Regions from separate parts of the Homo sapiens genome. Here region 2 is linked to region 1. Evidence: fine-mapped QTL for protein levels in blood plasma. A gene starts in region 1. The other region holds a variant in brackets. All regions are shown on one strand. Distances are between the middles of the regions.

Region 1 (12,749 bases):
TCTCATCACTTCAGCTGTACTTCTCTTCTAGTATTTACCCACATATGCTTTTTTTTAAGAGACAAGGTCTTGCTCCATCACTCAGGCTGGAGTGCAGTGGCACAATCATAGCTCACTATAACCTCGAACTCCTGGGCTCAAGCACTCCTCCAGACTCAGCCTCCCAACAGTGCTAGGATTACAGGCTCATGCCACCATACCTGAACCCATATATACTTTAAAAGTATCTCCTTCATGGTTATGACCCTCTAGAAAGCAAAGATTATCTTATTCATTTTTAACATGCCCTCAATATGTCTACAACATTACCTTGCATGTTGTAAGTAGATAATAAACTATTGTAAGTGTAACTGAACAGAACGTGAAAAATATTTGATCTGATTTCTTGGAGAGGAACTTAAACTTCAAGTCACATTTCTAAACATATTCACAAAGACTTAATTTTGTATCTTTTTTTTTTTTGACATGGAGTCTCACTCTGTCACTCAGGCTGGAGTGCAGTGCCGCGATCTCAGCTCACTGCAACCTCCGCCTCCTGGGTTCAAGTGATTCTCCTGCCTCGGCCTCCCAAGTAGCTGGGATTACAGGCACCCGCCACCATGCCCACCTAATTTTTGTATTTTTAGTAGAGACAGGGTTTCACCATGTTGGTCAGGCTAGTCTCCCAAAGTGCTGGGATTACAGGCGTGAGCCACCACACCCGACCAAAAAATATATCTAACTGTCCATAGGTTTCTTTACCTGGATATACCACAATTACCTCAATTTTATCTCATCTAAAACATAGTCACTATCTACCTTCTATTTGTACTCTTTTTCTAGTATCTCCTTGTATGGCCCTATGCAAGTTGCCTTACTTTTAAATCATTTGGCCTATTCCTTCATCTGCCAAATGAGGAGCTTGGCAATTGATTAAATGGAATCCAGAAGGAAAGTGCAAGTGAAAGTTTAATTTTTAAAAAAAGCTAATGAAGCTGGACCTTGTCTCTCATCATATGCAAAAGCCAACTCAAGAAGGATTAAACGTAAGACCTTAAACTATAAAACTACTAGAAGAAAATATTGGTAAAATACATAAGGACATTGGTTTAGGCAAAGATTTTGTAGCTAAGACCTCAAAAGCACATACGACTAAAATAAAAACAGACAAATTTGACTATATTAAATGAAAAAGTTTCTGCACAGCAAAGGAAACAATCAACAGGGTGCAGAGACATCTGCTGAACAGAAGAAAATATTTGCAAACTATTCATCTGACAAGGGACTAATATCCAGAACATACAAGGAACTCAAACTCAACAAGAGAAAACACAAATAATCCCACCAAAAAGAGGGTACAGAACATGAATAGACGATTCTCAAAAGAAGACATACAAATGGCCAACAAACATATGAAAAAATGCTCAACATCACTAATCATCAGGCAAATGCAAATCAAAACCATAATGAGATATCATCTTACCCCAGTTAGAATAGCTGTTATTAAAAAGACAATAACAGATGCTGCAGAGGATGTAGAGAAAAAGGAACTCTCATACACAGTTGGTGGGAATGTAAATTAGTACAACCGCTATGGAAAACAGTACAGAGATGTATAAAATACACACACACACACACACAGAACTACCATATGATTTAGCAATCCCACTACTATTTGTATATCAAAGGGACAACTGCACCTGCATGTTTATCACAACATTATTCACAATAGGAAAGATATGAAATCAACCTAAAAGTCCATCAACAAACAAATGGATAAAGAAAATGTGATATATACACACAATAAAATACTATTTGGCCATAAAAAAATGAGATCATATTTCTGAGGGCTCTGTTCTGTTCCATTGATCTATATCTCTGTTTTGGTACCAGTACCATGCTGTTTTGGTTACTGTAGCCTTGTAGTATAGTTTGAAGTCAGGTAGTGTGATGCCTCCAGCTTTGTTCTTTTGGCTTAGGATTGACTTGGCAATGCGGGCTCTTTTTTGGTTCCATATGAACTTTAAAGTAGTTTTTTCCAATTCTGTGAAGAAAGTCATTGGTAGCTTGATGGGGATGGCATTGAATCTGTAAATTACCTTGGGCAGTATGGCCATTTTCACGATATTGATTCTTCCTACCCATGAGCATGGAATGTTCTTCCATTTGTTTGTCTCCTCTTTTATTTCCTTGAGCAGTGGTTTGTAGTTCTCCTTGAAGAGGTCCTTCACATCCCTTGTAAGTTGGATTCCTAGGTATTTTATTCTCTTTGAAGCAATTGTGAATGGGAGTTCACCCATGATTTGGCTCTCTGTTTGTCTGTTGTTGGTGTATAAGAATGCTTGTGATTTTTGTACATTGATTTTGTATCCTGAGACTTTGCTGAAGTTGCTTATCAGCTTAAGGAGATTTTGGGCTGAGACGATGGGGTTTTCTAGATAAACAATCACACGTATGTTTATTGCGGCACTATTCACAATAGCAAAGACTTGGAACCAACCCAAATGTCCAACAATGATAGATTGGATTAAGAAAATGTGGCACATATACACCATGGAATACTATGCAGCCATAAAAAATGATGAGTTCATATCCTTTGTAGGGACATGGATGAAATTGGAAACCATCATTCTCAGTAAACTATCGCAAGAACAAAAAACCAAACACCGCATATTCTCACTCATAGGTGGGAATTGAACAATGAGATCACATGGACACAGGAAGGGGAATATCACACTCTGGGGACTGTGGTGGGGTCGGGGAAGGGGGGAGGGATAGCATTGGGAGATATACCTAATGCTAGATGACACATTAGTGGGTGCAGCGCACCAGCATGGCACATGTATACATATGTAACTAACCTGCACAATGTGCACATGTACCCTAAAACTTAGAGTATAATAAAAAAAAAAAAAAAATGAGATCATGTCATTTTCAGCAACATGGATGGAACTAGAGATTATGATAAGTGAAATAATCCATGCATAGAAAGACAAATATCACATATTCTCATTCATACGTGGGAGCTAAAAAGTTTATCTCAGCCAGGCATGGTGGCTCAAGCCTGCAATCCTAGCACTTTGGGAGACCAAAGCAGGAGGATCACCTGAATCGCTTGAGTTCAAGAGTTCAAGGTTACAGTGAGCTATGATAGTGCCACTGCACTGCAGCCCGGGTGAAAGCCAGACCCTGTAAGTAAATAAGTAAGTTAAGTAAGGAAATTAATTAAGCCAAAGAATAAAAGAAGGGGAGTGCCCAGATTCTCAGGAATCTGGTCCAGAAATTACTGTTCCATCCTCTTCTCCAGGGTTCACTGACTTTCCAGCAGAGTTCTTAAAAAGGGAAGATGTGCAAAGCCTCCTGCCTGAATAGCCATTAATTGATGGCTATCATAAATACATATTGACAGATTGAAATGCCTGATGTAGGAGATTTGGTTACTTTAAGTATTTTTTGAAGGGTATACTGTTTAACTTCCCATTGCAACAGGGGATAACTTATATGATTATTTCAGCGATGATTTTTTGAATATTTTTCCATTAAAAGTACAACTGTGTGAAACAAGGCAAAGACATTTCTCACACACAAAGCAGATGTCATTAGCCACTCTGATACACTATGCTGCTGATTCATAAAATAGGTAAGAGCAGATCGTTTTCTTCATCAGAAATATCTGGAAAAAAAAAAGCCACCAAGCACTGTATGTGTCAATTTCTCACCTTTTTTTAAAAAAAAAAAGAGTGGGCTGCTACAGTGGATATGTTCTACATCTCTTTGGGGCAGTGATTACATACAATTGTCATAACTCGATGGAACTGTCTACAGGATCTGTGTATTTTCTTTTAAGTAATTTATAACTCAACTTTTTTTATGGGAAGCTGTAGTTAACACTGGATAGTTAATACTTGGCTGATAAGAAACCGACTTGTTACAGAGAAAATGAGTCCCTTCCATCTTGGGCACAAAACGGCTCCACAAGACCAGCCTAGCTCTCTGGGCAGGCAGGTAACACTGGCAGGCAGAGGCATGCTCCTTGAATCTCACTGAGGGGGACAAGTGTTAGTGCGAGGCAGGTAGGAGCAAGGCCGCACACGCAGACTCTGTCATCTGGGCAGCTGCCCAATCCCCGTTTTTCATTTGTAACAAAAATAGTGTCCACCTCTTAATAATGTTCTGAGGATTAAGGGCGTTAAGTCGGATGTTTGTTGAAAGCACTTAGGCATAGTAGGAAGTACTAAGTAAATATGTCTTACCACTATTTATTATAAAAGATGAACAGGCTGGCCCGGCGTGGTAGCTCACGCCTGTAATCCCAGCACTTTGGGAGGCCGAGGCGGGCGGATCACGAGGTCAGGAGATCAAGACCTTCCTGGCTAACACAATGAAACCCGGTCTCTACTAAAAATACAAAAAATTAGCCGGGCGTGGTGGCGGACGCCTATAGTCCCAGCTACTCGGGAGGCCGAGGCAGGAGGATGGCGTGAACCCGGGAGGCGGGGCTTGCAGTGAGCCGAGATCGCGCCACTGCACTCCAGCCTGGGCGACAGACCGAGACTTCGTCTCAAAAAAAAAAAAAAAAAAAATGAACAGGCTACTACTACTACTACTACACACACACACACACACACACACACACACACAGAGCCACTGCCTAAAAATCTGGCAATCCTTCCTGACATTTATTACTGAATAACGAACGGTTACCAAACCTGTCTCCCAAATCACAAGACTCTTCCAGATTAAAATGTCTCTCGCCCACTTGGATCCACTCGCCTGTCTAGGACACAAACCCGTGAGGCACCAGCCCCCGTGACAGAGGCAGATTCCAGCTTCGCCTCACGCCACCTCACGCCTCGCGCCAGCCTTCCCACCACTGCCCGCGCAGCCCGCGCGGCGTCACGTGACCTCTAGTTCCGCACCGCCCCCCCCACCCCCCGGCCTAGCTGCCGGATCCCCGCCCCGGCTCGTCCGCGGTGTCACATGACACCTGGACCAGCCGCTGGCCAATCCCCTCCCTCCCGGGTTGCGAGGCATCACGTGGACGCTACTCGCTATCCCCGGCCTGTTGGCTTCTTCCGCGCTGGAGTATCCAGATAGGCGACACGCCGGCGGGCGGCTGAGGCGGGAATGGCTGCTGTACTGCAGCGCGTCGAGCGGCTGTCCAATCGAGTCGTGCGTGTGTTGGGCTGTAACCCGGGTCCCATGACCCTCCAAGGCACCAACACCTACCTAGTGGGGACCGGCCCCAGGTAAACGTCCCTCTCCAACCTCCCCAACGTTCGCAGCCGGCCCCGGAGCCCGGGCTTTGACTGATCGCGGCTGCGCGGGCAGTGGAGAGCGCCGCGTCCTGTCCCTAGCTGGGCAGCCCCGCGCCTAGCAGCCCCGTCGGGACTGCACGCAGACACTCGGATCTCGAAGCTAGCTAAAATACGACCACCCCAGGTGATAGCTCTCTAATTTAGGGAGAAATGGAAAAAAAAAAAAAAAAAAAAAAAAAAACTTCTGTTTTGAAACCCGATTTACTGTTCTTGATGTTTGAATGCCAGGGTGTGCGTGTTTAAACTGTTGAGAAAATTCGGATGTCAAGAGTCCAAGAAAGCGTTTACTTTGCTCACTTGACTTTCACTGGTGTTTTGCCCAGAGTGTAACTTCCCTTCTCAAAAGCGATTAATTATGTTGAGGCGATTTCCTCAACTCAGCAGCAGAGGGCAGGATTCTCCTGGCTTCCAAATTGGTTCTCTGCAGCCTGTGGGCTCATAAGAGGAGCTGACATAAGTAATTTGGGGAAGTTTTTTGTTACAATTGTGTGTGACCTTGTTTGAGTTTAATTTGCAGACACAGTAACACACCTGTATTTCTAAGAAGATACTTTTGCTCTTGTTTAGCTGCATTCTGTTTTAGTGGAATTATGCAGGAATGGGAGATTTGGTTTACTGCATAGTAAGTCTTAGGCATTTAGCAACTTTTGTAGTCTTTACTGGATGAACCCAGATAATGTAGTTTCTCTTGAGCATAGAATTTAATTGTGCAGTCAAGACATAAATTATTTTTAAAATATAATTGATTACTAAAAACGATTTAGTAAGTACAGTTAATTGAGTTTTCCTTGGAAGTGTCTACTGTTTGGCGTTTTTCCAGTAAATAAGAATTTTAGAAGCAGCAGACCTGCAAAGTGGGCAGGTAAAAGATTAAGTTCAGAGTAAATAAGGCAGGGTCAGGTAGTTACCAAAGGTTTAGGCTGCCACCAGAATCTAGGAGGATAGAGAATTAAGCAGGAAAAATGCCAGATCTCTAGGGTACAGTCTGTCTTGGCTGGAAGTCCCTCAACCAAGTAAATCCATAGGCGGTCTCTCTACAGTGTGTCATCTTGAACTAGTCAATACCTCAGACAAAAGATGCATATTATCAGAATTACCCTGGAAAGTCTCTTAGAAGAACACCATGTTGGAGATCAGTGTATTGTCTCAGTAAGTTCAGCACAACCTGCCTTTTTTCCAGCGTTGAAACAGATGGCTGATTCTGTTTGAAAACCAGGTGAAGAAATTGGCTTGTGTTGAGGGGCTATATTGTATGAAAAATACATACTGTATCTTTAAACACTATAATCACACTCAACATAGCAAAGTGCTAGTGCTAAGAGAGACTTAAAGACTAACTGAGGGAAAAGCAGATTTATAGTCTCTCGTCTTAAATTACTTAACACTGTTGCTCACATAAATTAATGGAGTGGAATGGCCAGTGGAATTACTTGCACTATGTAAATTATTTCTCCATATAGTTGAACTAGAGAGTCCGTATAGTTGAGCTAGAAATAAGTGTAGATAATGCTACTGTATAAAGTAAAAGGTGTAAAGTAAAAGGTGGCTAGAAGTTAATATTAATTGGCCCCTTGTCAGATGTTCTGAGATTGGTATCCACCTGTTCCGCTTCACAAAACAGTTCTAAGATCACAAGCGGCTTTTGTATCACTAACCCCAATGGTATTTTTCTGTTCTCATCTTCCTTGAACTTCAGTGCTTTGACACCATTGACGACTCCCTCCTTAATTTGCCAACACCACATTCTTCAGGTTTCCTATTACCTCTTGAGCTGCTCTTTCTCTTTCACCTTGATAGAGTCATCTTCTTTATCAAATCTTTAATTATTTTAGTTATTCAGTATATAATCCTCATCTCTCATGTTCTTCTACTGTATTCTCTACCTAGGTGATCTCATCTACTTATTTGGCTTTGCCTTTATTATCTGTTTATTATTAACTACCAAATATATAGCTCAAGTTCAAATTCCAAACTTGATCTTCAGACTCAAGTAGCCAACTTTTAAATCTATTTGCATGACTCACTGCTGCCTGGAACTCAGTGTTTTCCATACTGAACTCATAACCTTTCCAGAAAACTGCCAGGTCCTCCTTCAGTTGTTCATATCTTGATAAACAAAGCCATCAAAGGAAATGCCTAAATACCCTTCCTGACATTTATTTGCTTCCTACTGCATATCCAAGCCATTATGAAGATCTGTTCATGTCCCCTGCTGTCACTCAGTCCAAGCCAGCACAACTCTTGCTTAGGCTACTGTAATAGCCTCCTAATTGGCTTCTGTACGACTACCTCTGTCTCTCTTCAATCCAATCTTCCCTTTGTAGCCTGAGTGGTATTTTAGGAATTAAAACTGGAAGGCCTTGTGTATTCTGGCCTCCATCAGTCTTATCAGGCTCCTCTCAAACCTCTCCCACTCCAGCCATGCTGGCCTTCTAGTGTCTCAGATGAGGTTTGTGATTCCCTGTCTCAGGGCCTTCACGCATGCTTTCCTCTTTCTTCCACTCATTCCTCCCTTCTTTACCCAGCTAATCTCATTCATCCTTTAGAGCACAGTTTAAATACCATTTCCTCATGGAAGTCTTCCCTGACCCATCAGACTGTATTAGGGACACTCCATACTTTTCATGGTCCTTATCTCAATGATAATGAAATGATTTTTTTGTGCAAGAAGCTTAGTGTCTTTCCACACCTTCATACCCCACTATAACATCAGTTCAGTGAAAGCATATTCATGGCTATATCCCCAGCACCTAGCACAGAGCCTTGTACACAGTTCAGGTAGAACAGTAAACAGTTGCTGAATGAATGAGCATTCTGTACATTTTCTCTTAATTTTCACTATTATGACTCCAGAACTGCTGGATAACTACAGTTTTAGCTGGTCTTCCTTCCTCATCTGATCAGCCCATGGAAGCCAAATGAATTTCACTAAAACACTGCTAGACCTAACTGTGATGCTTAGTACATAGGTACTCAATAAGCATTTGAATCAACAAATGACAGCCAAATTGTCCAGTGTTTTTACTTTCCTCCTCTGCTCAAGAACCTTTAAAAACTGCAATTTTAACCTTTCCTATCAAAATTGTACATACTTTGTGGGCAGACAGTGTGGCTGATAATAGAAAAAGGTAGTCAAGTGGAATAGAATTAAAACTCTGGACTCTGGTTACCTCGATTAGAATCCTGGTGCCATTTACTAGCCATATGACTTTGGACAAGACAGTTCTAAGCTTCAGATTCCTGATACAACCCAATGAAGGTTGTGTAGTACCTACCTCATTGGATTTTATAAGGGCTCAGTGAAATTTAAGTGAAAAAACGTATATGAAAAGCACTTAACAAGTTCTAGCACGTGGAAAACATACCATGTTAGCCATTATGTTTATCACTTCTGCTTTCCTCATAACATCTAGATAACACTGTGCTCATAGTAGGTGTTCAGAAAATATCTAATGATTTTATAAGAGTGACAGCAAATAGAGACCAGTTAATAGCTATCTTAATATTGACATGAAATACCTATAACAAGGAATTTGATTCTACTAATTTTCCATCAATTAAAAATTTTTTTCTCCATTCATGTAGCAAACAGTTATTGTGTGCCTACTATGTGCCAGGCACTTTGCTCTAGTGAATAAATCGTTCATAGACCTATACAGATTCATCCATACTCTTCCCTTGAGCCCTTCATTAGCATAATTTGCATTTGCAAAATGACCTCCTGAGATAGGGATATTATTATCTGTGGCCAAGAAGAACAAAGTCAACTAGCCCATGTAGAGATGATACTATCCAATCATCTATTATAACTATTTACAGACATCACTGATAGAGTAACTGTTTGCTAAGGGAGAAACTGATAACATTTTTTTCAATTTCAAAACTGATAACAGTTTTTTCAAATGTATAGCTGAAGTTTTATTTTTGCCACATAATGATTCTAAGCACTTAACCTAAGCAATCCCCTTCTGCTAGAGAGGCAGTGTTTTGAATGGAGAAGTCACTGGACCTTGTATCTGAACATCTAGTGCTTCCTAGCACTGCCTCTTGCTGGTTATATGACCTGGAGCAAATCACTTAGCCTTTCTGAAGATAAGTTTTCTATAAAATAAATAATTAATAAAGTAATAATACCTCCCTAGAGTTGATATGAGGATCAAAAGAAATAGTAAATATGAAAGCCCCAAATGGTTTAAATTGCTATGTCAATGTCATATGTTATCAGTGTGACTTTTTTTTTCCCTCAAAGCTTGGTGCAAACTCATGTTTTAGGTTTTATAGTATCTAGACACCCCTCCTTTGTTCTGAATAGATTGTATTAATTCCAGAACTTTTTTCTGTTTTCTTTCTTTTGAGAGCCCTTCTTTTATCAATTCCAATTTTGTTAAACCAAGACAGGACCATTAAGAGACCTAAAACTGGAGCCCCAGAAACATGTTCTCCACTACCACAGTCGTATGGTCACTCACACTTTCACCTGCAAACAACCAGCACAGGCATTCTAAAAGATCTGTTTTCTTTGCTACTAGATTTTATCAAATTCATGTATCAACCCTGTTAATTTTGTCATGACTTTTGATCAGTGTGATGTGATCTGGTCATTAAATTACAGAAATTTATATTCATTTTTAGATTAGGAGATATTTCAAAACAGAGTTTCTTGGGAGGACGGGAAGGCAAGGATTAAGAAATAATTTTAAAAGTGGTGGGGCCTTGATGGATTGAAAAAATTTGAGCCTTACCTGAAGCATGGAAGTATTCTTTTTGTGAGGACCAGAAGACCCACAAAAATAGTCCCAGTGACTCTACGTTAGGGGCAGTGAGAATTTGTGGTAAATAACTGCAAATGCATGGAGGCAGCCAAAATCTAGGATGGGTGGGCTAGAGAGTATTATTGGAGGTATCATAGTATTATAGTCTTGTGTATTTTAATTTAGCATAACTAAATATGCACAATGCTAAGTGCAGTACAATGTATTATGGATATAGAAATAAATCCATAAATTCCTTGAACCAAACAGACAAGCTTTCTGCCCTGAAGGGACTCAAATTTGTACGGTGGTGTTGGTTGTGGAAATAGGCAATAAAAAAATAAATATGTAAATACATAATATATTACATGGTAATAATTGCTATGGAAAAAAAGCAAGATAAGATGGCTAGGAATAGCATCAGAACTCACTCTGACCCGAGTCAAACTCATCTCAAATTTGCTCCCTCCAGGGTTTACCTTCTTGATTAATGGCACACCAATCCTCCCACCTAGAAACCTCAGAGTCGCCAACTGTTTCCCTCCTTCCACATCTCGTTGTTTAACAAATATCCTGGTGGTTGGTTGATTGTACCTTCTAAATGTTCTTAAAGCCATCTCTTCCTTACATTTCCACTACCAACAGAACCCTATAATAAATGCCCTCTTGGTCCAGTGTAACCATCTGGTCTCCTGTCTCCGGATAGGACAGTTCAACACTGTGTTTCTGAAGGACATCTACTGTGCTACAGAACATAGGGTGCAGATAGAAGCCAATGGGCTATGAGGCCATTACCCTCCTCCCTTATGAGAGGCCAGTTTGTTTTTGTTGGCTCTGGGTCTCAGGGAGTAGGGTTAGGGAAACAAACCAATAAAAAATAACCATCCAGTTACTCACTGTTTAATTTTAATGCTTTGCAAAATGCTTTCTATGGTATGTTACTTTTATTGTTTATTTCCAGTCATATGCAGTTCCCCTTCTCACCAACAGTTGAATGTAAGCAGGGTTGTTGTGTCCTGCTTACTGCAAGAAACAAATTTGTAGCACATATTAGGTAATCCATAAACAGTTATTGATCAATTAATGAATAACTCAGACTTTTCATCAAGGCTAATCTGTCAGCCAGCCTGAATTATTGAGGTGTTACTGTGAAACAGTATGAGTGAAGAAGTTTGTGAATTGGATCTTGAGCTGGGCATGGTGGCTCAACGCCTGTAATCCCAGCACTTTGGGAGGCTGAGGTGGGAGGATTGCTTGACCCCAGGAGTTAAGAGACCAGCCTGGGCAATATGACGAAACACCATCTCTACAAAAAATACAAAAATGAGCCGGGCATGGTGGCACATACCTGTAGTCCCAGCTACTCAGGAAGTAGATGTGGGAGAATCGCTTGTGCCCAGGAGGTCAAGGCTGCAATGAGCTGAGATCGCAACACTGCACTCCAGCCTGGGTGACAGAGCAAGACCCTGTCTCAAAAAAAAAAGAATTGGATCTTGAGGAACATGTCACCCCCATGTCTTTAGTTCAGCAAAACTTCACAGAGAAAGGCCACCTCATAAAATCGTGAGGAAGGGCAAACAAAATATAAGGAAGATTCAGAACCACAAGCAAAAAATACAGCTAATGGGGTTGTCTAAGTAAAGAAAGAAAATAGCTCAGATGTTTTTCCCATGCTTCACTAAAGCCTTCATTTTCATGTGTCAGGGTGCTAATATAAAACTTCAGTGATAAGTTGTATATCTAGTGCCAAAGACTAGTTTCTTTAGGGGTGCCATTGAATCAAAATCTTTCATATCTATAAAACTTTTGAAATATACTGAGATATGAGATCTCAAAGGCAGATAGATAAAAGCACATATTCTGGCATCAGAATACCTGGGTTTGAAAGCTGTTTCTGCCATTTATCTGTAGAGTAACCTGGGCAAGTTACTTCTAAATATAATGATAAAATATCTACTTTAAACAGTTGTTACGAGGAATGTAATTGGTAAAATATGTAAAGTCCTTGGAATGGTGCCATGTTTATTTTAATTGCTATGTAAATGTTCAAGATGACTGCTATTATTCCTTGTTCAGACTTATATTTAGCTCTAATTTTTCTCAGAAAACTTTCTTAGGGTGAGATTACTGTAGTTAAGCTGAAGTGATGTAGCTGGTTTTTGTGCATGTTAAAAGTAAAATAATTTTTGCAGTTTCTTTAATGTAAATTATCTGTGTGCAAAATAATGCTAATGTCAACGCAGTGTTCCAATTGTGTGATTATCTTCCATTTAATTTTCAGGAGAATCCTCATTGACACTGGAGAACCAGCAATTCCAGAATACATCAGCTGTTTAAAGCAGGCTCTAACTGAATTTAACACAGCAATCCAGGAAATTGTAGTGACTCACTGGCACCGAGATCATTCTGGAGGCATAGGAGATATTTGTAAAAGCATCAATAATGGTAAACAGAAAACATTCATTAAGCTCATTGAGGAAAGCCGTGTTTGGAGAATAATTTATTTCAGTTACAGAGCTAAGTAGTCTATAAACCATTTACTAAATACCTCAGTTTTAAATGGTACTTTTAGAAATTGATTAGACTGTTGAATACTGTGCCTAGTTTTAACAAAGGAGGAACGGAAATCCTGATTTCTGTTTCAAATCCTCAATTTTACTTTAGTGTGTGAGTTACTATTCAGACTTAATCATAACTAACA
Region 2 (12,749 bases), 49 kb after region 1:
TTAATGTAATGAGTCCCCCCAAAAAAAGAACTGAAAATAGGCAGAAATTATCAAAGAAGAAATATAAGAAATTTTCCCAGACCTGCAAGATGAGTCTAAATTGAAAGGGTCTACTTAATATCCAACAACGTAAAAAAGATAAAACAATCCAAACCAAGACATACCATTGTGAAATTTCAGAACATCAGAAATAAGGAGAAGCTCTTAAGAGATTGTAGGTTGTAGGTGTGGTGGTAGGATTAGGGATTTGTAATCACTTAGAAGGGAACACAAATCAAAATGGCACTGACGTTTTCAGTGCTCAATGGGTATTAGGACAGAAGGCCTTCAAAAATCTGAGGGAAGGCTGGGTGCAGTGGCTCACACCTGTAATCCCAGCACTTTGGGAGGCCAAGATGGGAGGATTGCTTGAGGCCAGGAGTTTGAGACCAGCCTGGCCAACATAGCAAGACCCCATCTCAAATAACTAATGAATTTTAAAAATCTGAGGGAGAAATTATTTGCATCCTAGAAATGTATAACCGACCAATTAATTATGTGTGAATGTAAGGACTCAAAAAGTGTATCTGCCATGCAACTCTCTTTAGAGAACTGCAGGATGATAATACTCTAGAAAAATAGGAAAAAAGGAAAACACAAAATTGAAATAGTAAATCTACCACAGAAAAATGCCAAGAGGAAGTTATAAGACAAAGGTGTGCCCAGAGCCTTCTCCAGATTGGAGCGGGAGGAAGGGGGAGCTTCAGAGAGAGAGATCTCCAGGGGGAAAAATGGAACCAATATATTATCTGATATAGTTGAGCACTGGGGGTAAAAAAAAACTGCTGGTGGTCATACAACAGCTCTAGATGAACAATTGAAATAATGAGTTCATAGAAAACTACGCAGGTAGAAAATATGAGACAATTGTTTATTCCAGAAAACTAAAGTAGTGCAAGGAAGGAAATAATCATGAAATACTTTCTGCCTCTGCATCTTTTCTTAGGAAATAGTGTAAACACTGACCAAAAAATGGTGATACAGGATAACAGGAGATAGGAAGTGGGAAGTTAAGAATACTAAATCATCACCTATGATAATAGAAAGTCAATAAAGCCTAAAATTGGCAAATCAAGAAGTAGTAGAAGTGTTTTATTGGTTAATACTAGAAAAAAATGTCTAAAAGAGTTTAGTCATTGCCTTTGGGAAGTGTGGGACTGGGAGGAGAGAGAATGGAGAAATGTTTTTCCTGCTGTTACTATTTAATATTTAAATTACGTCTATTTATTAGTTTGGTAAAAATTTAAATTTTTAATGTCAAAATACTGATAGTATGCAATGGATGGGTTCCAACTTTTTAGTTCAGTGGAATAAGCATTTTTGCCCTAGAATTTTTATCCTGCAAAAGCTATCAGGAATTGGAAACAACGAAAGGTACATGCTTATTTATTGCTCACTTAGGTTTAAAAATAGGAATTTTCAAATTCATATTATTTCATGGATGCTATTCTGAAGTACAAAGTTTTCCCTAAAAAGAAATCCTGCACTTAGTATCTAGACTAAAGGACCTAGAGAATTAAGGTGAACTGGATTCAGACTTCTATGACCTTTACTGCAGTATGAAAACCATCTAAAGGGAACTAGATCCAAAGTTACCTGAATCCAGCAGGGTGCTATTTATATGTCTATGGTAGATCCCACCTTTGTTTTTTAGTCACAATATATTAGAGTATTAAAAAATCTATGATAGTTCAAGTTTCTCTCACTGAGAGTTGACTTGAATTTAGGATTCAGTAACTAGTAACTAGATTCGATAACTAGTAAAGAGAAAAAGGACCCTGCCTCTATCCCTCAGTCTTCAGCCAACACCACATTTTCTCTGTGTGTGGTCAAGTTACTACTAAATCTGTAGGAATGCAACATTTATATGGCAGACTCCCCTACTTATTTTTACTAGTGTTTTTAAGAAGTATGAGATGACTATGACCACAAAGAAGCACTCCCCTTAAGAATATTTTTTCCTGATGTATTTGAAAATAAAGACCAATCTTGAAAATCGTGTTGCTACAAATCAGATGTTTCCAAATATGTTGGGTTGCAGCAATTCAGGACCATATATATGACCTTATATTACATATGGTTGTATTAACACAGTGATGTCTTTGGCTCTTTAATGTTTTGAGTAAAGTGCATCTCTACCAAAAGACTAGTAAATTTGTTTTCCCATGTTTTATCCCATGATTTTAAAAGGTTTTAATCCATTGAGTATGAATTTCTTCTTTTTAGAGTGAGACTAATATCTACTCTAGTGGCATATAAAGCAACCCATGCTTTTAATATTTTCCTGAGTGTTGAAGAAAAGTTTTACCAGAAGTGTTCTGGTTTTATACCACAGAAGTCTTCCCAGCTTATAGAAGTAGATTAACCCTGCTTCAGTTTTCAAAAATGGTGAAAATGTCTATTACAAATGGTATACCTTAACATTTGATATCTAAACCTAAAATGCTAAGGACTGTTGTTAACCATCCATTCTCTCAGTGTAAAAATGCGTTCCTGGACCATTTGTATCACTGTCAATTGGTGGCTTATTACAAATGCAAATTTCTGGGCCCCAAAGGAGTACAGTTTTTTCAACTGGCCCAGATGATTCTTTTACTACAGCAACAGAATTGTAATTTAATATTATGTTGGTGGCTTTTATTTTGTCAAAAGTCAGTATAAAGACACAGACATATAAGTCTGAGTGTGGTGGTACACACCTGCAATCCCAGACCTTTAGGAGGCAAAAGGCAGGAGGTTGGCTTGAGGCCAGGAATTCAAGACTAGCTTGGACAACATTGCGATACTGGTCTCTACAAAAAAGTTAAAAATTAGCCAGGCACAATTAGCTGGGCATGGTGGTGCACACCTGTAGTCCTAACTACTTGGGAGGCGGAGGCAGGAGGATCACTTCAGCCCAGGAGTTTGCTACAGTGAGCCACAACTAGCATCACTGAACTCCAGCCCAGGTGACACCAAGACTTTGTCTCTATTAAAAATAAAAAAAATAGACAGATAAAATCTTACCTGTTTTTTTTAAATTCCATTGAGGACATTGTCTGTTTTATTATCGAATGTTCTTCAATGTCAATGGAACAAAATCTCTTTCTGATTTCAGAGCTAGAAAAAAAGTTTGTCTCTCCTGTGAACTTCTATGTTTCCTTTATTAGAGTAGTGCTTGTCAAATCTGATTAATTCTCAGAATTTCCTGGGGAACTTTTAAATTAAAACAACACAGCTTCTCAGCTGTAAGACCATTCACTGGACTCTCCTGGTGAGGGACAGCCCTTGTGATACTGATAATTAGCCATGTTTCCAAAACTCTACATGGGATAATATCTAGTTAATTCTCCATGATCACTTTTTGCCTTGGCTTCCTGGAAGCTAGTCTTACAGCAATTATTCTTGGAATTCAGTTATTTAATGTAATTATTCTCCATTTCTTTCCCTATTATATTACTTGGCTCATTTAGTATGTTTTTAATACATTTCAAAATGGGAGGAAATAACCTAATAGTACTGTCTTTTAGACCAGCACATTCCTTGCAATAGCATTTAAGCCTAAAATAAATAAGTTACTAGGATTATAGAGTAAAAGAATATTATGGACTTTTAAAAATTTCCTCATTCAGTTTTATGGAGACTATGGGAAACTTATCATTTGAAAAGGACTCTGAAATTTGCTATTAAAATGACAGATACGTAATTAAATTCCTGATCCCCCTTAAGCCTCTTTCATATGGACACCCCCAAGACTAAATGCATTGTTCTTTCTTTTTATTCACCACATCAACGAGCTAATCCATTTTGGTGGTGTTAACATTACCACCATGCTGAATAATTTCCAAATGTGTGATTAGCTTGAATCACTCACCAAAGCCCCAGGCCTGAATCTTTTGCTGTCTGTAGGGATCCTTTATTTGGCTGTCTCCCAAAGACCAGACATGCATGTGAAGAAACCCAGTGCACCTAAAACCAAACTTTTCAGCTTACTGAACAATTTCCTGATTACCTCCCTTTCCCTACACACCATGTGGGTAAATGGCATTACCATTCTCCCATGTCCCAAGCTGAATTAGTCCTTTGTCACCTTTGTTTCTTTTTAGCCCCACTCCACTTAACTGGGAAATATTTATGCTACAATTTGAGGATGTAGTTTGAAGGCAGATCGAAAACCAAAGAAAATGCTGATTGGTATAAGTGATACTCAGAAGGAGGGATAAATGGCCTAAGAAATAAAAGTGGTTTGCTTCACAGGGAGAAAACCTATCATTTGTCTTAGACAGACTCAAGGATTTATTCCTTTCTCTTCTTTCCCTAGCCTAGTGCTCATTTCCTAATTAAAATCAACTACTATTAGTTGATTTCCCTGTATGCAGCCTATTCCTGTTTCCATTTATCATGGTGGTGGTATTAACAGTTTAGTAATATTTGTCTAATCAGCCTTCATCTGTAGAAAAGCAATGGTAATAGGATCTGACTCAATGAGTTGTTGTCACTATTAAATAAGTAGTTTGTAGTGTTAGGCATAGTGCTTGGCATCCAATAAATATTAATTTTATTTTGATGTTGTTAACAGTACATTCACATATTCCCTTATGATTATTTCACTTTGACTTATACCAATTAATTGCCACAAAGTACCATATTTAGTCTTTAGTATAATCTGACCATAATTTTATAAGCTAAAATTCACATTCTTCATCCTGGGAGTTAAAACTTAGTTGTAAAACCTTAAGTTATTTTTCTGAGCCTCTATCTCCTCATTTGAAACAGGGATAACATTATGTTCTAGATTTATATAAAGTTAAAATTAGTAATGTGTATCAAAAGCGCTTTGGGAACTGCAAAGAATTGTATATGTTATAGTTTTAATTTGTGCCATAAGCTTTGTCTTGGAACACATGGACTGATGCAAGCAAGGAAGGAGCTCCAAAGAATCCTTGGCCATCACCCCAAGACCTGGGTTCTACTAGGCACTGAGCCACACACCAGTTTTTGATGGCTACAAGATATCTATTCAGTTCCATCAGTCACAAATTCCCTGAGGCATAAGTCCTTCTAATTTGGGGAAGGCATTTTGCACAAAATGATGTTGTCAATGTTTAATTCTCATCAGGTGAAAATGTTCTACTTGGTGGTCCGTGGCAGATGTCAGTGCATAATAGCCTTATGAAGCATCCCCAGAAACTGCTGCTGTCTCCAGAATGTGCCAGCCTCCCAGGAACCAATTACCTGTCACCATTTTCCTGTCTGTTCCTAAGAACTAGAACCCTCTTGAAAGTACAACAAATTCAAACTGAAGTCCTTCCTCTATCTGTGATTGCTGAAATTATTTTAGAAATCACCCTACTAGATATGCCCACAGTCCTTGGCCATTGCCTCAAATACAAGTCACTCCATCCATTCTTCTCATTCACTAACATTCACATTACTGTTGGATTTTTCTTCCCTGATCCAACCACCTCGCACTGTTCCTGTACCTCCAGATCCTTTACACCATGTTCTCTAGGACATCAACGGTGATTCTACTTGTCTAGTACTTGTTCCTCCACACCTTCTGGTACTAAACTAACCCTACCCACAAGGAAAAGCATGTGGCCAAGATGGGCCACAATAATTGACCCAGAAATGATCATGCAACCTAAACCAGCCTACTTTAGGTCTTTCCTTGGAATTGTTCTGATAGAACCAGCAAGTGACCATGTTCTCTGCCATGTAAATAAAGTCCATTTACAACAGGAAAAAGTGAAGCCAAGCTGAAACAGAAGACAAAAGAAAAATAAAGAGAGAGAGAAAGGTAGAGAGAGAATCTAATGAAGTCAAGTGCCTGGTTCTATTTCCTAAGATCCACAATGCACCCTGGCTCCTGAAGCTTTTCTTTTGACTCTCTTAACTTTTGGTTCACTATATTCCCATTTCAGTCACTTGCAACTAAAAGAGTTATAACTAATATAATTCATTCCATTATAAATAAACTTCCTACAACTTCTGCCACTGCACCAAACATTCCCTCTCACCAGTTGCTTTAACTATATACCAGGCTCTCCCCTCAAAACACCAATCCCTTTCAGCCCTCTTAAATGAACATCTTTCCTCTGTCAAACTTTGTATGTCTTGAGGTGGGGCTAATAGCCTTCTCCCTCTCCAAACCATTCACTGCCCCCTATGCCTGAAAAAACCCTGTTCCTGCTGACATATTTCCTTGGGCCCTTATTACTGCTACTCTCCACTCATTCATTCTGTTAAAATAAGTAATTGGCTGAGTGCGCTGGCTCACACCTGTGATCCCAGCACTTTGGAAGACCGAGGTGGGTGGATCACCTGAGGTCAGGAGTTCGAGACCAGTCTGACCAACATGGCAAAACCCTGTCTCTACTAAAAATATAAAAATTAGCTGGGCATGGTGGTGGGAACCTGTAATCCCAACCACTCGGGTGACTGAGGCAGGAGAATCGCTTGAACCTGGGAGGCGGAGGTTGCAGTAAGCCGAGATCACACCATTGCACTCCAGCCTGGGCAACAGAGCAAGACTCTGTCTCAAAAATAAATAAATAAAATTAAAAAAAAAAATAAGTAATTGGGCAGTCATAAGGCCAATGAACACCTTAGGCTCCTACACAAACAAACTAAAACCCAATTCAATAGAAACAGTAAACAGACACTTAAGCTTAACCAATCACAAACCACCAACTTACCTCTAAGGACTTCCAACAGATTGTACCCAAATAAGGGAAATGTTTAGCTGGACCCAATCAAGTAATTCTTTTTTTTTTTTTTTTAGACAGAGTCTCACTCTGTCACCCAGGCTGGAGTGCTGTGACACAATCCTGGCTCACTGCAACCTCTGCCTCCTGGGTTCAGGCGATTCTCCTGCCTCAGCCTCCTGAGTAGCTGGGATTACAGATGCGCTCCACCACGCCCAGCTAATCTTTGTATTTTTAATAGAGATGGGGTTTCACCATGTTGGCCAGGCTGGTCTCGAACTCCTGACCTCAGGTGATCCGCCCACCTCAGCCTCCCAGAGTGCTGAGATTACAGGTGTGAGCCACTGTGCCTAGCCAAGTAATTTCTTTACTTGTTCAGCCTATAAAAGCCTGCTGCTCACACGGCTGAAACACAATTCTGTGAACCTCTTCTGGTTTTGAGTGCTGCCTACTTCGTGAAACCTTTAATGTTCAAGTAAACTCTGTTAAATGTATTTTGCCTGTAGTTTTTATTTTTAACAATTCAAAACAGAAACTTGGCTCACAGTTCTCCTTGCAGTGCCCTT[C/T]CTGAGTTCACCATCCACATGGAAGAACATCCACTGTCATTCTGTGACTGCCCTGTCTCTACTAGCCTCTCCTCCTACCTCCATCCTTTTGGTGTAAAAAGAAGTGTCCCTTCCTATGTAAAGTTCTAGTGGATTCCAAAGTTTAGAAACCTCTGTCCATCATTTTGCCCACCTCTTCCCCCTGTCTTCAGCCTGTTCATCTCTCCCCTCCTTACCATCTATTAATAAACATGCTCAACTGTGACATCACTCAAAAAACAAAAACAAAACCTACCTTGACTCCGTTATTCCTCTTTATTTACACACCCTGCTCTCTTCTCCCCTTCAAAGTTAAACTTCTTGAAAATATTCTCTCTACTTCCTGTTTCCATTTTTCACTTTGCATTCACCACTTACTGAAACTGGGCTCTCTTTCATCAGAGAAGTAGTACTCAGGCCCTGATGTGCTTGGTTAAATAGGGTGAGAAAGTCCACCTTGTGCTTGGGCTCCTTAAGCTTCTATAGGTCACAGGATTACATTCTACCCCTAGAGAGACACCTAAGTAGTGGTCAGATGGGTCACAGAATCTTCGTAGCCATTACCAACCAGCTCTCTCCGAATTGCCAGATCTACCTCTAAATGTGACATGCCATCTCCTGCCAGTCTTACATACTAGTAGCAACACTGTTTTATAAATTTGTTTTCTCGTTTCCATAGCAGCGAAGTGTATACTCAAGGAAATCATATAATTTCCAAGTATTAATGAAGTGGTTTTGCTTCCTCATGAAAATACAATTTCCTTCTCACCAGATGAGTACGATTTTATATTTTTAAACTCACTGTAAATGATATAACAATAGCATGTAAACAGAAAAATGATCTGTTGGGGTCTTTTTCATGGGCTTTGTGTTTCTACATAGGCAGCAACCAGTCTCTTGAATAGATCAGCAATGAGATAAGATTGAGAATCACTGCTCTCTGAAGAGTCAGAGTCTTCCTGGCAAGTACAGACCCTGCAGGACTGTTTACATGAGACAAGAATGGGTTTCTTTGCTGCACAGCGATGCACACTTGTAGTTCCAGCTACTTGGGAGGTTCTCTTGAGCCCAAGAGTTTAAGGCCAGCCTAGACAACATAGCGAGGCCCTGTCTCAAAAAACATCAAAAAGAATGGGTTTGGCAGGCATACAGATACCTGGACCTATGACCTTGGGCAAATTACTTAACATCTCTGAGCCTCAGCTTCTCTGTCTTTAAATAAAGACAACAACACCTATTTTATAAGATTTATGTGAAGACCAAATGATATATGTAAAGGCAAAATGCCTGGAATTTAATAAGCATGTAACAAACATTCGTTTCTTACTTTTCATCAATTTGTCCCCAAGGAGAGGTTGAAATCAAACAGTCCCATTTTAGTTCTAACTTATTTCTATTAGGTAATTTCTTGTACCTACTTTCACATCATCTCAGAACAGGTTTTTCATTCTTATACATGTCTTGTAAGGCCACATAAACACAACCTCATTGAGGGCAAAGATCATATTTCTGTTCTTTTATATTTCTCATAATTACAGCAACCTTGTACCACAAATTTTCCTGGATAGATCTAATCCCAAAAAGCTGCCTTCTGTCCTACAGTCATTAAAAGAATCCTGAGAATTTTAGGATCCAGGCTATGTTTGCCAAAGTCTTAACTTACTTGGAATGTGGCCTCCAGAGCTGAACACACATAAGAAATCAATCTGCCTGAGGGGTCCCTGGTGGGATAGCTCATCCCTGTAATCCCAGCATTTTGGGATGCCAAGGCAAGAGGATTGCTTGAGGCCAGGATTCTGAGACCAGCCTGGTCCCCATTCTAAAACAAAACAAAACGAAAAATCTGCTAAGGGAGGCCTCCAGAGCCCATGTGTCTTGGTAGGACCACTTTCCCCACCACCATGACCTACGCTTGGAGAATTTAATGGCAGCCACCTTTCACTATAAACTTAAGAGGCTAATCCTAAAAAAGAAGCTAAAATTATTATTAAACCTCCACATTCCCCTAAAAGACCTCAGGATCATTCTGTAATGCTTCAAAACTCTTTCCACCTTAGTCACCTCCAGAGTCAAACCTCCATTGTTATCCATCATCACCACAATCTCCTCCCCACAAAGCTCTATTCATCCTTTTATTTTGCTTAAGCCAAAAGCCCCTTCGCAGCCCCCAAACTCTTGCAGTGTATCCCCCAAAGCTCCAGGTGTGCCATCTACCAAATCCCCAACACCCTCTGCCTCTTTCTGAATGTTTTCTTCACCTTCTCGCTCAGAAACCTGGAGGCAGCTCTAACTGAAAACTGAAACCTGCTTCCCTGGAGCCTTCTCAAGAGGTGGCTGTTTCTTCCCTCCCACGCACCACATACCACAGAGCCTAGGGGTGGAATGGGTGTCTTTCATGGTCCTCATTGCTGCTGACAGACAATTCTCCTCCCTTGCTCAAAAACCCCAGCTTTTCTGGAAGTCCATGCCCTGAAACTACACCACCCACTACCCTCCTGTGGCAATCATCTGCCATCCTCTCAGGCTCTTCCTCATTTGCAGCAGATGTTAGTGCCCAGCTCCCTCACTGGCTCCCTTTCCATTCTTCTCCTTCACTCATTCTTGGTGATTTAGCATCCATGTGCTGAGCACCTTAGCCTCCTACTGCCTTGACTTCTCACTCTCAAAGCTCTCCTCCTCCATTCACCTCAGCTACCCACTCCCACCTTTCTACCCTGTGCATCTCATTGCCAGTGACTGCACAACCTCTGAAATCATTTCCAGCATCCCACTCTCTCACCACTTCCTCCTCAGCCAGCCCCCCTCCACAACAATTCTTCAGCCCCATAGGTGCCTCCAATTCAGAGGCCCTAGCACTATTTCTCTGTCCTCTGTCTCTGTCAGAGAACTGGCAAGGAATAGATGGCCCATTCAAAAGAATTTAGCTGGAGAGCACTTAATGAAGGGCTTATTCACAGAGGAGTAGCAGGTTGAATGAACCAACAAGGGATGGTGAAGTATGCGGGGAGTAAGAGCATGGGAAGCTATTACAACCAACAGCCTGAAGCGGCGGGGGAGAGAATGAGGTCCCTGGAGCCCACTTAGAGCTGAAACAGTAACAGAAAAGCTACCTGACACAGGCAGTGGCCACAGGAGAACAAACATAGTCACTGTTGGAACCATAGTAAGGCAAGGAGGGATGATGGGAGTATAAAGAAATCCCCAAACCCTCTGTTTTTTGGCTAGTGTCTTCCACAGACTTCCAGTCCCATTCCAATGGGAAGTCAAGGGCGAGGGAGCCCCAGTACTGCAGTCTGCAGACATTTGCCTTTCACAGCAGAAAAGGGTGGACTCTCAGGGCAGAGGGTGACAGTATAACAAGCATGACCACCACCTCATGGCCTTCACTTCATCACCCCTGCCCTCACCCTTGCACATCCTCCACATCCTTTGTCATACTGGCCTGGCAAAGCCCAATTCTGCCTTCTCCATACCTGTATCCAAACAGGGAGATATGCCTGGAGAAAATTATGTGGCTCTGCTTACTAGTCTCGCTTTAAATGTATGGCCCCAAATCTCAAGTGGGCCCTGCTGTCTGATTACATCCCTTTAATCTACTCACCCTCCACAGTTTTCCTCCATTCTCTTCTCAAATGTCATCACACTATCTCCACTCCTGATGATTTTGTTTCCTATTTTACTGAGAAAGCAGAAACAATCAGAAGCAGACAACTTCATCTTGCCATTATCAGCCTACCCCTAAATTCTGCCCTCTATCTGGTTGCTGTGGGCACCCTATCTTGTCACTGTGGTCAGCTGTGCACTACATGCCATCAACTCTGAGCTGCTCAAGGACTTTGCTTCTGCAAGCAACTCCTGTAGAATAAATCTTTCTTATAGATCATTCTCATCTGCATGCAAATACATCATAATATAGCTCATCCAAAAAGAAAAGCAAAACCCTTCCCTACACCTCTCTTCACCACGTGCCCATTACTCCGCCTTCCCTTGCAGGGAAATCCCCTCAAATGAGTTGCTTATACTCATGCCTCCATCTTGCCATTTCCCATTCTCTCTTGAACCCACTCCAGTCAGCCATTTGTTTCTACCATTTCCAAAGAAAATACTGTCTTAAAGGTCACTAGTGACTCCATAAGAGTCAGGGTCCTAGCAGAAGCAAATGGCATGTTTAAATTGGATGATTTGGGGAAATTTGTATAAAGGCACTCTCTTCAAGCGTGTGGGTTCGGGTAAGGAAACGGCAAATGATACTGCAGTACCCCAAGGCTATAAACAATAGGGTCCCTGAAGGAGCAAGACAGATAATTACCAAAGCCCAAGAGAGATTTGTGGAGAGAGGGTCTCCTGACAGAAGCCAGGACCTTCTGTGGAAGATAGCAAGAGTGCAGGGTAGGAGCCCACAGTGCATGACAGGGCACTGTCGCGGTCCAAGGACTCATCATCTCCATCCAATGTGGAAATCCTCAATGGGAAGTCTCTGTGCTGGAGCTCTACACACAAGGCTGGCCAAAACTTTCTCAGCTGCACCTCAGTCTGAGGCTCTTCCTGCCTGATCCTTCTTCCTTCCTTTCACAGGGATCAGATCTACATTACAGCCTGAAGCTTTTCCCTGTTAACTCCCCTCCCCTTTAATTTTCACAAATGTTATTGCCAATAAGTCTCTTATGCTTCTAACTCCTTCTTGGCATCTATTTCCTGGACAACCCAAACTAACATAACCACACAACCTCCATCTTACCAAACCCAGTGGTCACTAGGCGCAATGGCTCACACCTGTAATCCCAGCACTTTGGGAGCCTAAGGCGAGTGGATCACAAGGTCAGGAGTTCGAGACCAGCCTGACCAACATGGTGAAACCCCATCTCTACTAAAATACAAAAATTAGCCAGGCCTGGTGGCACGTGCCTGTAATCCCAGCTACTCAGGAGGTTGAGGCAGGAGAATCACTTGAACCTGGGAGGCAGAGGTTGCAGTGAGCTGAGATCGTGCCACTGCACTCCAGCCTGGGCAACAGAGCGAGATTCCATCTCAAAAACAAACAAACAAACAACAACAACAAAAACCCAATGGTCATCTCAAGTCCTATGGCTGGCCAGAGTATGATATGTTTAAGCAGCTGAAAGAAGACCAATGTGGTCTTCTCACAAAGGAGTGAAAAATCACCAGATTCTAAGGTTTGAAAGGACCAATTTCAGTTTAAAAACTGACATTAGTAGAGCAATTCATTTCCAAATGACCTAGAACACTTCTACTGCACCTTGCACTGTCTCTTTGTAAATATCCATCACATTGGTCATTGTTTACTGTCTGTCTTCTATTCCAGGTATGCGTTTCAAGAACAAAGACTAAATCTGTCTTGTTAATAATTATATCCTACAACTCAGGACTTGCTTGGTGCATTGCAAGTCTTCTTTAAATATATTTAAAATGAGTAACTTTG

Which allele goes with the higher level. Positions count from the first base shown, and alleles are read on the strand shown. Strength reflects both the effect of a copy and how common the allele is.
For the plasma level of the protein whose gene starts at base 5,042 in region 1, T is the low allele of the variant in region 2 and C is the other (moderate association).

What was found. A credible set is the group of variants that fine-mapping cannot tell apart. PIP is the posterior inclusion probability: the model's chance that the variant is causal. Protein levels are from antibody-based Olink assays in UK Biobank. Linkage for the fine-mapping came from a reference panel and not from the study's own genotypes, which makes the PIPs less certain.
Region 2: its variant is the best candidate, but not a certain one, in a credible set for the plasma level of the LACTB2 protein (UK Biobank, PIP 0.81).

What each region holds. Positions count from the first base shown.
Region 1 is chr8:70,661,478-70,674,226 of GRCh38, reverse strand. It overlaps LACTB2 (lactamase beta 2), which reads left to right and starts at 5,042. Exons shown (of 7, transcript NM_016027.3): 1 at 5,042-5,228; 2 at 12,330-12,493. The coding sequence starts at 5,107. It overlaps XKR9 (XK related 9), which reads right to left and starts at 4,888. Exons shown (of 5, transcript NM_001011720.2): 1 at 4,689-4,888. It overlaps LACTB2-AS1 (LACTB2 antisense RNA 1), which reads right to left. Exons shown (of 4, transcript NR_038881.1): 4 at 10,948-12,749.
Region 2 is chr8:70,612,174-70,624,922 of GRCh38, reverse strand. All of the region lies in intron 1 of LACTB2-AS1 (LACTB2 antisense RNA 1), which reads right to left. Among named protein-coding and RNA genes, the nearest start is that of LACTB2-AS1, 10 kb to the right of the region's middle. RefSeq lists an enhancer at 7,299-7,378. The variant C/T (reference allele first, on the strand shown) is at 7,292.